Regions from separate parts of the Homo sapiens genome. Here region 2 is linked to region 1. Evidence: fine-mapped expression QTL. Tissue or cell type: tibial artery. Region 1 holds a variant in brackets; the other region holds the start of a gene. All regions are shown on one strand. Distances are from middle to middle.

Region 1 (8,182 bases):
CGTTAAAATATTAAAAGGATAATGAAAGGACCAAAAACAAGAAAAATCAGCTGCTGTCCCAGACCCTTCTCCTATCCCTGTTGTCCCCCTCCTTATAACCCTGCCTCTTGGGAATCGTCCCAAGAGCCCACTCACTACCAGCCTAAGTACCTTTCCCTAAAAGGACTTCAACGCGAGACAGAGCAATGTAAAAAGGATATTCAGAATTTCCCTTTCCCCTCTACTCGGAGGAAAGAGGCACGATCCATAGAGCCGTTATGGGAGCCTAGGAACTGTGAACACCCTCCTGGCCAAAACATTCCTACAACAGATCAAAAATTTCCCACCGAAGACCCCCAGTGGGACAATAACAACACAGCCCACCGAGAAAATATGCAGGACCTTAGAGAATTGATTCCCGTCTTTCGACCATATCTCGGGATGAATGTGTTCTTCATGTGCGGTGGTGAGCAAGTTTAGGGAGGGGAGGAATTTTCCATGATTGATTTGGAGGCCTAAGCCTAATTCTAGCATCAAATCTCTTCCTAATAGATTTGTCCCTGTACCCCAAACCCAGAATCTGTACCTGGGTTGAATCTGTACCCCGAACCCAGAATCTTACCTGAACATTTGATATACAGCAAGGGAAAGATGAAGGGCCTATAGAATTTTTAGACAGATTAAAGGAACAAATGAGAAAATATACTGGTCTAGGTCTCGAGGACCCTCTTGCATAGGAAATGTTAAAACTTCATTTTGTCAGTAACAGCCAGATATTAACAAGAAATTACAAAAGAAAGAGAACTAGAAAGATAAACCTATAGAAGAGTTTCTAAGAGAAGCCCAAAAAGTCTATGTAAGAAGAGACAAAGAGGCTGGGCGCTGTAATCCCAGCACTCTGGGAGGCCAAGGTGGGTGGATCACCTGAGGTCAGGGGTTCGAGACCAGCCTGACCAACAGGTAGAAACCCCATCCCTACTAGAAATACAAAATTAGCCGGGCGTGGTGGCGCATGCCTATAATCCCAGCTACTTGGGAGGCTGAGGCAGGAGAATCGCTTGAACCTGGGAGGTGGAGGTTGCGGTGAGCTGAGATCATGCCATTGCACTCCAGCCTGGGTAATAAGAGTGAAACTCCGTCTCAAAAATAAAGAGATGAAGAAAAACAAAAGCAGAAGGCAAAAATTCTGCCCACCATGCAACAAAGTACCCAGGGGCCCAGAACCTATAAAAACCTAGACCCCCACTCTCCAGGCAATATAAAGGGTATGAAAGTAAAGCCGGGAGACTCAAAGATAGAAGAAAAAAAAATCTGAGAGAGAAAGAAAGAGAGAGACAGAGAGTCAAAGGGAGAGAGAGGCAGAGAGAAAGAGAGGCAAAGGGAATCAGAGTGAGAGAAAGAGTAGAAGAGAGAGAGAGAAGCAGAGAGACAGGCAAAGAGAGAAGGAGAGGCAAAGGGAGAGAAAGAGGACAAAACAAATGCTTCAAATTAAAAATAGGTCACCCTCAAAAGAGAAAGTTCCAAATAGGAAGAAGAACAAAGGTCATATATAAAAGAAAATCAGCTAATATTAAATTTCTGTTAATTCCAGAAGCAGAGACAAATCTGCTACGAAGAGGTTTGATGCTAGAATTAGGCTTAGGCCTCCAAATCAATCATGGAAAATTCCTCCCCTCCCTAAACTTGCTCACCACCGCAGACAAAGAACACATTCATCCTGAGATACCGTCAAAAGATGGGAATTGAGGAAAGTTAGATTCCTCAGATTCATGTTAAATTAAAAACCCCTGGGGAAGTAGTAAAGAGAAAGCAAGGTACCCTATTCTTTTAAAAGCCAGGATAAATTTAAAACCTATAATTGATAATTGAAGGTCTTCTCAGTGATGGGCTTCTTAAACCCCGTATGTCTCCCTAAAACACTCCAATACTGCTTGTAAAGAAGCCAGATGGGTCATACCGGTTAATGCAAGACCTTAGAGCTATTAATCAAATAGTCCAAACTACCCACCCTGTTGTTCTCAATGCTTATACTATTAACAGTAGAGTCCCATACAGTCACCAATGGTTTACAGTAATAGATTTAAAAGATGCATTCTGGGCTTGTCCGTTAGCAGAGGACAGCCGGGACCTATTTGCCTTTGAGTAAGAAGACCCTCACTCCAGTCAAAAATAGCAATACGGATAGACAGTCTTACCCCAAGGGTTTACAGAGTCTCCAAATGTCAAATATTAGAACAAGTCATTTAATTAGCAAAGGTAAACCGTACATTGAGCTTGATCGGATTGAAGGCATTATATCCTTGCCTCTGCCGGAGACTAAACAAGAACTTAGAAAATTTTAGGATTAGTCGGGTACTGTCGTCTATGGATAGGCTTTTATACAAAAAGTTCACGCAAGATGGGCCAAACCCCCCCATTTGGCAATTACCAGAAATCCAATAGGTGGAAAGGTTAAAACATCTATTAGTAACTGCCCCTGTCCTAGCTTTACCCTCTGTAAGCAGCCATTCCATCTTTTTTCAGTGTGAACAAGGGCGTAGCCTTAGAAATACCCAAAAGCACAGAGGCCACTGGCAACCCATAGCCTTCCTATCAAAAATCCTTAATCCAGTAACCCGTGGATGGCCCAAATGCATTCAATCTATAGTGGCAACTGCTGTGCTAACAGAAGAAAGTAGAAAAATAACTTTTAGAGGAATCCTCATTGTGAGCACACCTCACCAGGTCAGAACTATCCTAGGTCAAAAAACAAAGGTAGCTTACTGACTCAAGAATCTTAAATCAGGCTATTCTGTTAGAAAAAGATGATTTAACATTAACCACTGATAATTCGCTTAACCCAGCAGGTTTCCTAACAGGGGATATAAATCTAAAGAGAGAGCACACATGTTTAGATGTAATTAATTACCATACAAAGATCTGACCAGACCTAGGAGAAACTCCCTTCAGAACAGGACAACACTTATTTACAGATGGTTCCTCCCAGATGATTGAGGGAAAAAGACACAATAGGTGTTCAGTAATTGACAGAGAAACTCTTGTAGAAATAGAGTTAGGAAATTTGCCTAATAATTGGTCTGCTCAAACTTGTGAGCTGTTTGCACTCAGCCAAGCCTTAAAGCACTTACAGAACCAGGAAAGAGCCATCTATACCAATTCTAAGCATGCCTTTGGAGTGGCTCATAGATTTGGAAAAATTTGGACTGAACGAGGTCTTATTAATAGCAAAGGCCAAGACCTGGTCCCCAAGGAATTAATCACCCAAGTATTAAATAACCTTCAATTGCCAAAAGAAATAGCTATTG[T/G]CCATGTCCCCAGACACCAGAAAAAGCCTTTCTTTAATTAAAGTCCCAAATTTACAAGGTTTTCAACAAAAGGAAAGTTTGCTAAAAGTTAACAGTGTAACATGTATTATCCTAACTTTTAATCTTGTGCCGTAGGCAGTCTAGTCCACAGACATGAAGGAAGTTTGCTTTAGGAAAGAATGGTTATCATCTCTGACATTAAAAAAAAAAAAAGAATTTATGTAAAAACAATCTTATATGGTAAATTCTTGTCCTAAAATAAATTAACTGGTTGTTGAAAGAAAAGGATGTTTACAACAAGTCAGAAAGTTAAGGCATGTTAAAGATTGTCTGTGAAAGTCATGAAAAATGTTATAAAAGGGAATTTATGCCAGAAATGTTGTATAATTTAAAAGTAATTAGGCCTCCTGAATGTAAAACTATTGAAGAAACAGTTTATGTGCAAGGTGTGTAAGAAAAATAAAATATACTTTTGGTAAAAGGATTATAAGGTGGCATAAGAATGTGGATTTTTACCTACATTAAAAGTTTAAAAATTGTTTTGAAAATTTAAGGAAGTTTTGAAACATTAATTGTAAAGGAAATTCTGTGTGTAAACATATTAAAGTTAAAGGGGTATCATCCAGTTTTTCTGTGAACTGGGCATTAAAATAAAAGCACAACAGGTTTTTCTTAAAGCACTAACCTGGTCTTTAACAAAAATTATAAAGGGTTTAAAAGAGTCTATAAAAATCTTACCTTATGGTCAGACATTAAAATTGCATAAATATGTCACAAGGTTTTATTAAAATTGAGTTTAACATTAATAGCACATTAATATAAAGGTGAAATGTAGCTTATCCAGTATAAAATCATACAGGAAGCACTGTCAAATATAAAATGCTGTTTGGCTTTCTTTGGTCTAAAAACTAATAAAAATAGGTGCTAAAGAGAATTCAGAAAGAAAATGGATATTGCCAGACCAGAAAGAAATGTTATCCAAACCCCTTATGAGGAAAATCTTGTTCCAACTGCATCAAGGGAACCATTGGGGGCCCCAGGTCATGTGTGACGCAGTCCTCAGAGTTTATGGGTGGATAGAAATTTATACCCTGGCCAAATGGGTTACAGAAAGTTGCACAGTAAAAGCTTCCCCTTTAGGGAAAGGAGTCCAGGCTTAAGGCCATTCCAAAGTATCCAGATTGATTACACAGAGATGCCTCCAACTGGTCATCTAAAGTATTTATTAGTAATAGTAGATCACCTTATTCATTGGGTAGAAGCTATTTCCTTTTCAAGTACAACTGCTAATAATGTAGTCAAGGCATTAGTTGAAAATATTGTACCCATGTTTAGATTATTAGAAAACATTGATTCAGATAATAGGATTCATTTCACTGCACATGTCATTAAGAAATTAGCACAGGTACCAGATATAACATGGGAAGATACTCCTTGACACCCACCTTCATCAGGGAAAGTAGAAAGGCCTATTACCCTGTTGAGAGTCTGAACTGCTCCCCCCAAAGACATAGGCCTATCCCCTCATGAGATGCTTTATGGATTGCCTTATCTACATTCTATTACTGATCTTCCTACATTTGAAACAAACAATCAGTTTCTCAGAAATTATATACTTGGTTTACCTTCCACTGTCTCTTCCCCCAGAACTAAAGGTCTTTTAGCACAGGTGCCACCCCTAGAGTTTCCAGTACACCACCATCAGCCTGAGGACCACGACCTCGTCAAAAGTTGGATGGAGGGAAAACTCAAACTGGCTTGGGAAGGACCCTACCTAGTGCTGCAAACCACCGAGATCTCAGTTCGAAAAGCAGAAAACGGATGGACTCATCACACCTGGGTCAAAAGAACAACACCCCCTCCAAAATCACAGACAGCTATTCCAAGGCCAATTCCAAGGAAGCTAAAGCTAAAACGGGGTTGATCCTCTTATATTGCATCTCTTTCTTTTCCCCTCCTATTGCTAGTCCTCTCGTTATTAATGTAACTAGGTCGAGTTCACCCCAAACTATTACTTTTGATGCTTGCCTTGTGATGCCCTGTGGAGATTTGCCAAACCAGAGGCAACTCTCCACTTCAGAAAAGTATTTTTATCCTTCCTAGCTCTCCTTAGACCGGAAATCTGTTAACTGGGATAAGTTAGTTTGGGAAGAGTTTGACGAAGATTTCCAGTATAAACTGGGAATCCCGTCCTCCTAGAGAAGAGCTTCTCTGCCGAAGTTGGTCCAATGCTTTACAAAATACTAAAGAGCAAGGATGGACCGCCCCAACTAGTACTTGCAGCTTCTTAAAACCATATGTTCATTTTACTAAAGAAGTTACCCTCCCCATTGTCAGCTGAACCAGTATAATCCAGTACAGATGACCATCTCTGCTCCCCAGAGGTCTTCCCCTTCATTAAGCTGTTTCTATGATATAGGAACAGAAGTCTCAGGGAAGGACCCCATAAGATCCTTTGAAATGTGCTTCACTGCCTCCTCACCTCCTGCACGGCCTTCTCCCTCTCCTAAGTTCTCTGCTAAACAAACCTTCTCTTGTTATATACCCAGTGATAGGATCAAAGTGGACGTTGAGGAAGTAAATGATTTAAAACAAACTTTAGCAATAGAGACAGGATATCAACATGCAAATGCCTAGTTGGAATGGATCCGATATTCTGTTCGCACGCTAAACAAAAGCAATTGTTATGCCTGGGCACACAACAGGCCAGAGGCCCAGATTGTCTGCTTTCCACTAGGATGGTCCTCCAGTCGACCAGGCATGGGCTCTATGGTAGCTCTTTTCCAGGATCCCACAGCCTGGGGTAGCAAGTCGTGCCAAGCTGTCTCTCTGCTATATCCCGAAGTCCGACACCCTGCTGGTCAGCCTCTGAGGGCCATCCAGCCTCCATCTCCCAACACTAAGTTCACTTCGTGTCTTTCACGACAAGGAGGGAACTTATTCCTTGGAGACCTGAAAGGACACGAGACTTTTCAGGAGCTTACCAATCAGTCAGCCTTAGTCATCCCCGAGCAGATGTGTGGCAGTATTGTGGTGGACCTTTACTGGACACTCTGCCAAGTAACTGGAGCGGGACTTGTGCTCTAGTCCAACTGGCTATCCCTTTCACCCTGGCATTTCATCAACCAGAGAGAGGGAAAACACAACATCGTAAAACAAGGGAAGACCCTTATGGGTCTTTCAACTCTCATGTTTATTTAGATGCAGCTAGAGTCCCACAAGGAGTACTAGATAAATTTAAAGCTCAAGATCAAATAGCTGCAGGAGTTGAGTCAATATTTTGGTGGGTGCCAATAAGAATGTAGACTGGATAAATTACATTTATTACAACAAACAGCAGTTTATTAACTACACTAGAGATGCTGTTAAACGAATAGCTGAGCAATTAGGGGCTACCAGCCAGATAGCTTGGGAAAATAGAATAGACTTAGATATGATATTAGCAGAAAGAGGAGGAGTTTGTGTCATGATTAAAACTCAGTATTGTAGTTGCCAGGCACGGTGGCTCATGCCTGTAATCCCAGCACTTTGGGAGGCCAAGGTGGGTGGATCATGAGATCAGGAGTTCAAGACCAGCCTGACCAATATGATGAAACCCCGTCTCTACTAAAAATACAAAAATTAGCTGGGTATGGTGATGTGCACCTGTAATCCCAGCTACCCAGGAGGCTGAGGCAGGAGAATTGCTTGGAGCCAGGAGATGGAGGTTGCAGTGAGCTGAGATCACGCCATTGCACTCCAGCCTGGGCAACAGAGCAAAAGCAAGACTCCATCTCAAATAAAAAAACAAACAAACAACAAAACAAAACAAAAAAACCCTCAATATTGTACCTTCATCCCAAACAATACCGCCCCTGATGGAAGTATAACAAAGGCATTGCAAAGTCTAACTGCTCTGTCCAATGAATTAGCCAAAAACTCAGGAGTAAATAACCATTTCTCAGGGCGGCTAGAAAGGTGGTTCGGTAAATGGAAAGAAATCATAGCCTCAATTCTTACTTCTCTTGCAGCTGTAATAGGTGTACTCATTCTTGTTGGGTGCTGTGTCATACCATGCATCCGTGGGCTGGTGCAGAGAGTCATAGAGACAGCACTTACTAAAACCTCCCTTAACTCTCCTCCACTTTATTCAGAGAAGCTTCTTCTTTTAGAGAATCAGGCAGAACAACTAACCCAAGACACGTTAAGGAAGTTTGAAGAGAAAGTAAAATTCAAGAGGATGAAGTTGTTGAATACAGTGAGTTCTAAATTTCTCTTCAAAGAATCAGTATGTCAGTATGTTCAGTTCTTTATTCTCCATTTTATAGTTTAACTTCCTCATTCTCCTCACCCCTAGTTTCAGTAGACAACCTTTTCCAGTTTTAATCAGTAGTTCACATCTGTTCCCCTGGTCACCTGCTCCATCCTGAGTCACCCCTGGTCACCTGCTGTGTCCCGAATTATCCTGAGTCACCTGTTCTGTAACTGCCCTTCCTGCCAAACTACTTACTCCACCACTCCAGTTCATACCCCTGCTCTCTTTAAAATAGCCAGTCAGAATCAGCTTAGACTGTGAGGTCCAACCCTAGCCAATAGGGGACGTGGCAGTAGGGGCTACCTGCGTCAGGAATAAAAACCCCTTCTCCTCCCTTGTTCAGGTGCGCTCTCGCCATTGCTCCATCCGTGAGTCACACCCTTCTATAGAAGTAAAATTGCCTTGCTGAGAAAATTAAATTTATGTTCCAGTGCTATTTCTTTTGCAGCACCAAAAAATTATTTGTAACTTTCTGTAGCTCCCTGCCTGAGACAACGGGGACTCCCAGGACACAGGAAGAACAACCTTGCTCTGAGGAATTGAGGAGGGCAGTAGCTTCCCAACCTATCCTGGAAAGCAGCATATCTCATTTACTGGTGTGTGC
Region 2 (8,182 bases), 110 kb before region 1:
CTGCCTCGGCCTCCCAAAGTGCTGGAATTACAAGCGTGAGCCACCACGCCCAGCCTCACATTGGTTTTCATTTGTGCTGCTGCCTCTGTGGTCCAGAGAATAAGAAGGGTGCTGCTTCTGCTGCCCAAAGGGCAGAAAAGTTCAGAAAACCACTGTTGTCACAGCTGCCTTTAAATAACTGAGACAGGGACTGGTGCGAAAGAGAGCCAAAGCCTAAGGAAAAAACCCACAATAACATGTATCTCTGCCACTTTTCAAATTTCAGGAAGTGCATTACACTGGGTAAAACACAACTGAATCCAGAATACAGGAGGCAAGGGCTCCTGGGAAATGTAGTTCATAGGGTTTCCGCCTTGCCTTAGGGAGTGCTGAGAAGTGTGTGGAATGAATGCTTGCATTTGTTTTCTATTGTTGCCATAAAAAGTTACCACAAACATAATGGCTTAAAACACTACCCACTTATCTCACAGTTCTATATAGAAGTCAGAAGCACAGTGGACTCAGCTGGGAACTCTGCTTAGGGTCTCAATAGGCTGTCAGCCAGCTAAGGCTCTGCAGAAGAATCTGCTTCTGGGTTCATTCAGGTCGTTGGCAGTACTACTTTCATTCTCAAGGTTTACATGTGGTCCCCCTCATCTTCAAGCCAGGAACCATGGGCTGAGTTCTGCCTGTGCTTTGAAAATCTATGACTTTCCTTTCTGCTGCATCTGTGTGACTTGTCTTTTGCCTTTAGGGATTCACGTGATTACACTGTACTCACCAGGGAAATCCCGGTTAAGTTCTCCATCTTAAGGTCAGCTGATTACAACCTTAATCATATTTGCAAAGTCCCTTTTGCCATGTAAGGTGACTTATAACCATAAGACGCACACTAGGAGACAAAGATCATGGGAGTACAAATTCTGCCCGCCACAATCCTCAATGGAAGAAAACTATCAAACAAGAAAGCATTCCAACACAAAAATGTAAAGAATTTACTCAAGATAATTGATATTCTCAGCTTTATTAATTTTAATAATAATAGTTACTATACATCAAGTGTCTACTATAAGTCAGGAAATGTACAAGCAACTGTATCTGTTATTATGTTAAGCATTATTTTAAAAAGTCAAACAGCAAATTGAGAGACTTCATAGTACTTCATATAGCACATTATGTGAATGAATTTATTTATTTATTTATTGAGATGGAGTCTCGCTCTGTCACCAGGCTGGAGTGCAGTGGCGTGATCTTGACTCATTGCAACCTCCTTCTTTCAGGTTCAAGCAATTCTCCTACCTCAGTCTCCCAAGTAGCTGGGACTACAGGTGCGCACCATCATGCCCAGCTAATTTTTGTATTTTTAGTAGAGACAGGGTTTCACCATGTTGGCCAGGATGGTCTTGATCTCAAGTGATCTGCCCACCTTGGCCTCCCAAAGTGCTGGGATTACAGGCATGAGCCACCGCACCCAGCCAACAATAAACTTTATTAACATAATGTCCAGTAAATATCAATTATTATAATTTTTTTATAGAGATGGGGTCTCGCTATATTGCCCAGGCTGGTCTCAAACTCCTGGGCTCAAGCTATCTGTCGGTCTTGGCATCCTAAAATGCTAGGATTACAGGTGTCCACCTGGCCTATTATATTACTATTGTTAAAATGACATACAAGATATCCTAGTACCTTAAATAGACATAACATTTCTAAAGGCTAGTTACTCACTGTTAACTGAATTAAGTCCAAATTCCTTATCTGACTGCAACTTACTACCTCCCACTCCCTCCCACACTATCTCTCTTAGCAACCCTATAATTATTTTCAAAATCATGTTCTAGAACAACAAAAAATGTGCAAAGATTAGGATTGTTTTACATTTTTGCTAATTTCCTTAACGTCTGACTTAATACAGTAAGACTCTCTCTCTCTTTTTTTTTTTTTTTTGGTTTTTGAGACGGAGTCTCACTCTGTTGCCCATGCTGGGGTGCAGTAGTGCGATCTTGGCTTACCACAAACTCCACCTCTCGGGTTCAGTCGATTCTCCTGCTTCAGCCTCCCGAGTAGCTGGGATTACAGGCACGCGCCACCATGCCCGGCTAATTTTTGTATTTTTAGTAGAGATGGGGTTTCACTATGTTGGCCAGGCTGGTCTCGAACTATTGACCTCATGATCCGGCTGCCTCAGCCTCCCAAAGTGCTGGGATTACAGATGTGAGCCACTGCGCTTGGCCTCTCTCTCTCTCTTTTCTAAGACAGTCTCTTGCTCTATCACCCAGGGTGGAGTGCAGTGACACTATCACAGCTCACTGCAGTCCCTAACTCCTAAGCTTAAGCGATCCTCCCGTCCTCTCAGCCTCCCGTGTAGGTGGAAGGATGCAGCTAACTTTTTATTTTTACTTTTCTAGAAAAGTGGGTATCTCACTTTGTTGCCCAGGTTGGTAGTTAGATTCTCATGTCTGCTTCTGTATTCAATCTGTAGCAATATCACCCGTCGATTTTCCAGAGGCTTCTAGAAAATTCCATGTACTCTCCTGACTCAGAGAATGAAAAAAGCAAAATCATCTTTATATTATTATAAAAATAGTATAATTATAAAAATAGGATTGACATTAAAGATTACCCCTAGATCCCTGGAGCATATTTGGGGAACTGGCTGGTTGGAGTATGTTATTCCATTGATGACCCAACCTAGATTGTCCGGACTTGCCTCATTTTTCTCCTAACTGGAAGTGACAAGGCAGGCAGCTCTAGCCTCATGACAAGCGTGGTGGCTCACGCCTGTAATCCCAGCACTTTGGGAGGCCGAAGCAGGTGGATTACCTGAGGTCGGGAGTTCATGACCAGCCTGATCAACATTGAGAAACCCCGTCTCTACTAAAAATAAAAAAAAAACTTAGCCAGGCACTGTGGCGCATGCCTATAATCCCAGCTACTTGTTGGGGGCAGAGGTAGGAGAAGCGCTTGAACCCGGGAGGCGGAGGTTGTGGTGAGCCGAGATCGCGCCATTGCACTCCAGCCTAGGCAACAAGAGCAAAACTCTGTCAAATAAATAAATAAATTAATTAATGAAAAAGAGGGCATTATGGATCTAATCTACTGTTGTATTTCCTGTATTTTCTACACAGTGGGCATTCAGTGACCACCTGTTGAGTGAGTTCATGGCATCCAAGTGCACAGCCACCTAAGGCATCGGGCCTCATGAAATCACAAGCAGCCAAGGCTGGCAGGTTCCTGGGACAATTTAGCAAACTCAAGGCTATGGTGCGGGTGGGTGCAGTGGCTCATGCCTGTAATCCCAACATATGGGGAGGCAGAGGTGGCGGATCACCTGAGGTCCAGGAGTTCAAGACCAGCCTGGCCAACATAGTGAAACCCCATGTCTATTAAAAGTACAAAAATTAGCCGGGCATGGTGGTGCACACCTGTGGTCCCAGCTACTCGGGAGGCTAAGGCAGGAGAATCGCTTGAACCTGGGAGGTGGGAAATGGGGGTACAGTGAGCTGAGATCACGCCACTGAACTCCAGCCTGGGCGACAAGAGCGAAACTCCGTCTCAAAAAAAAAAAAAAAAAAAAAAGACTACGGTGCTAGGACCAATCTCCTGAGTCACAAAATTTAAGGAGTCGTCCAAAAAAGTAAATAAGATAAATATTTTCAAACAATATTAGAAAATTCAAATCGGAAACTACCGACCGGGTGAGGAGTTGTTTTTGTAAATAAGGTCTTATTCCTAATAAGTTTCGAAAGTCTAAATCTTCACACGAGTCACTCAAAAGAAAGGCCCAGCTCAGGAGCCTGCATCTGCGCTATGGCGGGTAAGCCCCGGTGGCTGACCGGAAGAAGCGCCCACGGAGGCGAACCCCAGGCGCCCCTCAGCCTACTTCCATTTCCCCTCGCGACCCTTCGCCCCGCCCACTCTAGCTGGCTGTGCCTGACTGGCTGGGCTGCCGCATATTCGCGCTGCCATTGGTCCATAATCAGCTGGGGGTGGGCGTAGGGAGACCTACTTCAGCAGGTCCTGGCCGGACCAGCATTGTTAACGGCTGCGGTTCGAAGTGGCTGTGGGTATTGCTGCGGCTGGTGCGTCGTCGCTCTAGGTACGTTGGGGCCGGGCGAGTGTCCTGCGAGAGCGGCGATTGGCGGGGTGGCGGCTCTAGGAGCGTCGGTCGCCTCTCTGAGGGCCGGCCCCGGAGGCCTCGGAGCGCCGGGCCTACCGGACGTTTGCGGCGAAGCTGCCCTGACTGAAAAGCGTCCGCGGGGCCGTCTGACAGGTCCGGGAAGAGGCCCCTGAGGGGCGGACGGGCGCGTCTCCACCGTTTTCGCAGAGGGATACTGGTGAAGCGGGAGTGGTGTGCGGCCTCAGGTCCGGGCGGCACTGGGGTTAGGGACTGCGGAGGGAAGTGGTGCGTGTTTTTTGTCCTGAGGGGTAAGTAAAAGCTCGCTCTTGTCCGGAATGCTTTCAGAAATTAACGGATAAATCTCCACCTCCACCAATTTTAGTGTCCCATTGCCAAATTTTCTTGAGTTGTTTTAATCATCTAATGAAGTCAGGTGCCAGAAGGCAACTGGATCTCGCCTGGCGGCCTTGAAGTTTGTTAAAAAGTAGGGACCAGAGCATCAGGAAAAATACAAAATTCTGAGTAAAATGCTGAAATCCCGTACCTCTGAGCTTGCCGGTGTAAGGATGGTAGGATTTAAGGAAGACGATTTCCTTAAGGTAGAAGTTCGTTTTTATGAATATGTTTTTAAGAAAATTCCATCTTATCGCCCTTCTCTAACCAGTTTTCTCCAAGTTTGGCAAGCAAGTTTGAGAAAGAGAGGACGCAATAATTTTTTTTGCCTTATTTTTGTTAAAACCTTACCGCACTTAAGGAAACGGACTTTCTACCTTTCCGTGTTTCTGTGTTGAAAATGAAGTTTCTAACCACGTGTTCCTTCCTTTACGACACAATGGCTTTTTCTGTTCTGAAGACTTGCATATGGTTAATATGTATGGAAGAAGAGGACAGTTGTACTGAATAGTCCACATTAGAAAAATTATGTCATATTCACTTAAATTGTTATTCTAGATTGCGACTTAATACTGTTTTTATTATGATTTTGTCATATTTATTGTAGCCAGTAAATGACCTGCGACATAACTATTTGCAAAACAAATGGGGAAGACCAAGATAAAGATAAGTTATATCACAGGAAAGCAATTGAAAATGCAAAAATGAAGCATCTGAATGAAGGACTAATAACACTGAATTCAGCTTTTGTGAAGTATGCCTTTCTTCTTAGCTCGTTTATTCTGCAATACGTTTGTAGAAGTGTTGACTCCGATCTTAATCAAATTTACTTCACTCTCAGTCTTATCTGCAGATATGTACAGACCACATCCTAAGATTGACTTCTGCCTCAACAGAAATACATGAGCCAGTGCCTTATTGGAAATGATTTGCGTGTTTTAAGAACTGGTGTATATAGGTACATCTTGAATGTTCTGCTTTCCTTGCCTTATGCCTGTACTTCACCTCAGCCTTCAATTCCATTGTGTTTCCTTGCTACTTGGTATCTTGAAATCTGGTACGAAACTATTGCATGATCCCTGCACCTTTGCTTCTGCATATATCATAGCTCTCTTATAGTGAGTGTGCACAATCTATTTCATTTGATGTAATCAAAGTTTAATATATTGGATAGTTAAAAATAAAATACAACTTTAAATGCGCAAGAGTATTAGTTCTCATTGTTGAGCGAGATGATACAAAATACCAAAAAATCTTATTCTCTCATTCTATGTCAGTCTATTTTACTCCCCCCCCCTCCCCCCGCCACCCGGACACACACACACTGCGGTGACTTATCTATCTCGTTTATTTTATTTTATTTTACTTATTTATTTTTCTTTGTGAGGCAGAGATTCGCTCTTTGGCTCAGGCTGGAGTGAAGTGGCGCGATCTCGGCTCACTGCAACCTCCTCCCTCCGGGTTCAAGTGATTCTCCTGCCTCAGCCTTGCAAGTAGCTGGGATTATAGGCGCCCGACTAGTTTTTGTATTTTTAGTAGAGATGGGGTTTCACCGTGTTGGCCAGGCTGGTCTCGAATTCCTGACCTCAGGTGATCAGCCCGCCTCTGCCTCCCAAAGTGCTAGGATGACAGGCGCTAGTCTTAGCGCCCGGCCTATCTCATATTTTTATATCATTTAGATAATTATTCTGCTTTACAGTAGACTAGGATAGTTTTTCATCTTCATTTTTACCAACGATGGGACAGATTGGAGTCAGCCAGTGTCTAGAGAGAAATAACCATGACTTTTTGGAGGAAAGGGAGATAATATATTGGATTTTTTTGAACTTCTGATTAAGCCATGAAATGTTTAGAGAGGTGTTACTGAAGTTAGCCATGAATTATTTAGAGGCATTATATGTGTCTACTAAATGTGGTCATAAGTTTCATTAGTATACCTCTGAGGCTCTAGTGTGTACAGTATGCTGATGTGAAATAGCTTATCAGATAGCCATGGCAAAAGTTGCCAAGGCCTTTTTAGTACTCTTTACTAAGGAGACAGTGACTTTGGGAGGCTTTTCAGTACTTGTTATTAAGGAGAGAATAACTCTGGGTGGCTTTCCAGAGGTTTGTTTTTTAAGTGAATATTCATTAAACAGCATTAAAACTACTGTAAGAAAGGCATGTCACTGAAGATATAAAAAATATTTGTAGGCCGGGCGCGGTGGCTCACACCTGTAATCCCAGCACTTTGGGAGGCTGAGGCAGGTGGATCACGAGGTCAGGAGATTGAGACCATCTTGGTTAACATGGTGAAACCCCGTCTCCACTAAAAAATACAAAAAAATTAGCCGGGCGTGGTGGCCGGCGCCTGTAGTCCCAGCTTCTCGGGAAGCTGAGGCAGGAGAATGGCGTGAAGCCGGGAGGCGGAGCTTGCAGTGAGCCGAGATCGCACCACTGCATTCCATCCTGGGCGACAGAGCAAGACTGTCTCAAAAAAAAAAAAAAATTATAGTGGGAAATTTAGATAAAGAAGTAGTAGTTCTCTCGGGGCTGTTTTTTTGAGGAGGTGATCTTTAAGCTTGATCTTGAAAGAGCATAGACTAGGAGGGAAGGTTGATAATATGACAGTTCTGGTCAATTTGGAAAGTGAAGGTTAGGTTTATAAGAAGGTTCAGTTGATATCTCCAGGAAAAGACAAACTACTGTGAAAGAAAGATAGTGTAGTCATGGTAGTCTATCTGGCTATATAGAGAATATTTATAACAACTTAAATATTGATTTAACTGAAAATACGATGAGCTGTAAGAGACGTGTGAACTACAGAACTGGATCTACGAATGACAGGAGGGCAGACCACAGTGCTTTTCACATCCTCCCCTCCTTCCCTTGGGCATAAGACCTGGCTATAGGAAATCTAGCTAATTACAAGAACGTCTTTATAATTTGGAGGGAAACTCTTGGAACTGTGAGTGCTCCCCGTCCAGTGTTACCATCCCCTACCATCCAATTAAAATGTTTCCAACCCACCTCCAAAAAAAATACATATGTGAGCTAAATCTTCATCTGCAATTACAGGAAATCGACATGGCTAAAATTTGTAACTCAAGAAACAGTATGAAAATATTTTAAAATACTGAGATTTTAAAAACAAGTTGTTAAAATTAAAGTGATTGCCATTAGATATTCGGGAGTGCTGGCAAGCAACTGCTTTATTTCATAATGAGCATTTTATACTATTACATTGATAAAACTTGAAAAAAGTAATGTCAGAATTCTATTAGCATTCAGGTGATGCGGATGCTGCTGGTCTATGAACCACACTTGGCATTACTTCATGGTCATTATGAGATTAACTGCCACCTGGCCTGAGTTTTGTTATTTTGTTAACCACTATATAACTCTTAAAGGGCCCTGTCGCTTCATAATAACTGTTTTGTGTTTGTGATAGACTTCTTCGAGTCTTAAGACCCTCCGTTCAAATATTGGCTGAAGTACCTGACTTTGAACAAGATTAGTTAAATGGGTTTTTTCTAAATTTTTACTTTTTAAAAAGAGTAACAGTAAAAATTCAGTTCAGTAGTTTTTTTTAATTTAATGAGAATTGTTCTTATTAAAGTGTTTATTATGTATTAAGATACTACCTTGGAGAACATCACTGGAGAACAGAGATGTTTTATAATGGAGAAACCCAATGAAGCAGGAAAAAAC

What was found. PIP is the estimated chance that this variant, and not a neighbour inherited with it, causes the effect.
Region 2: ATF7IP2 starts here. The variant in region 1 is fine-mapped to the expression of ATF7IP2 in tibial artery (GTEx, PIP above 0.99).

Annotation. Positions count from the first base shown.
Region 1 is chr16:10,487,170-10,495,351 of GRCh38, forward strand. No RefSeq gene overlaps it. Among named protein-coding and RNA genes, the nearest start is that of LINC01290, 37 kb to the right of the region's middle. The variant T/G (reference allele first, on the strand shown) is at 3,285.
Region 2 is chr16:10,382,045-10,390,226 of GRCh38, forward strand. ATF7IP2 (activating transcription factor 7 interacting protein 2) reads left to right here and starts at 4,017. Exons shown (of 14, transcript NM_001393719.1): 1 at 4,017-4,078. RefSeq lists an enhancer at 371-440 and silencers at 641-710, 3,756-3,895.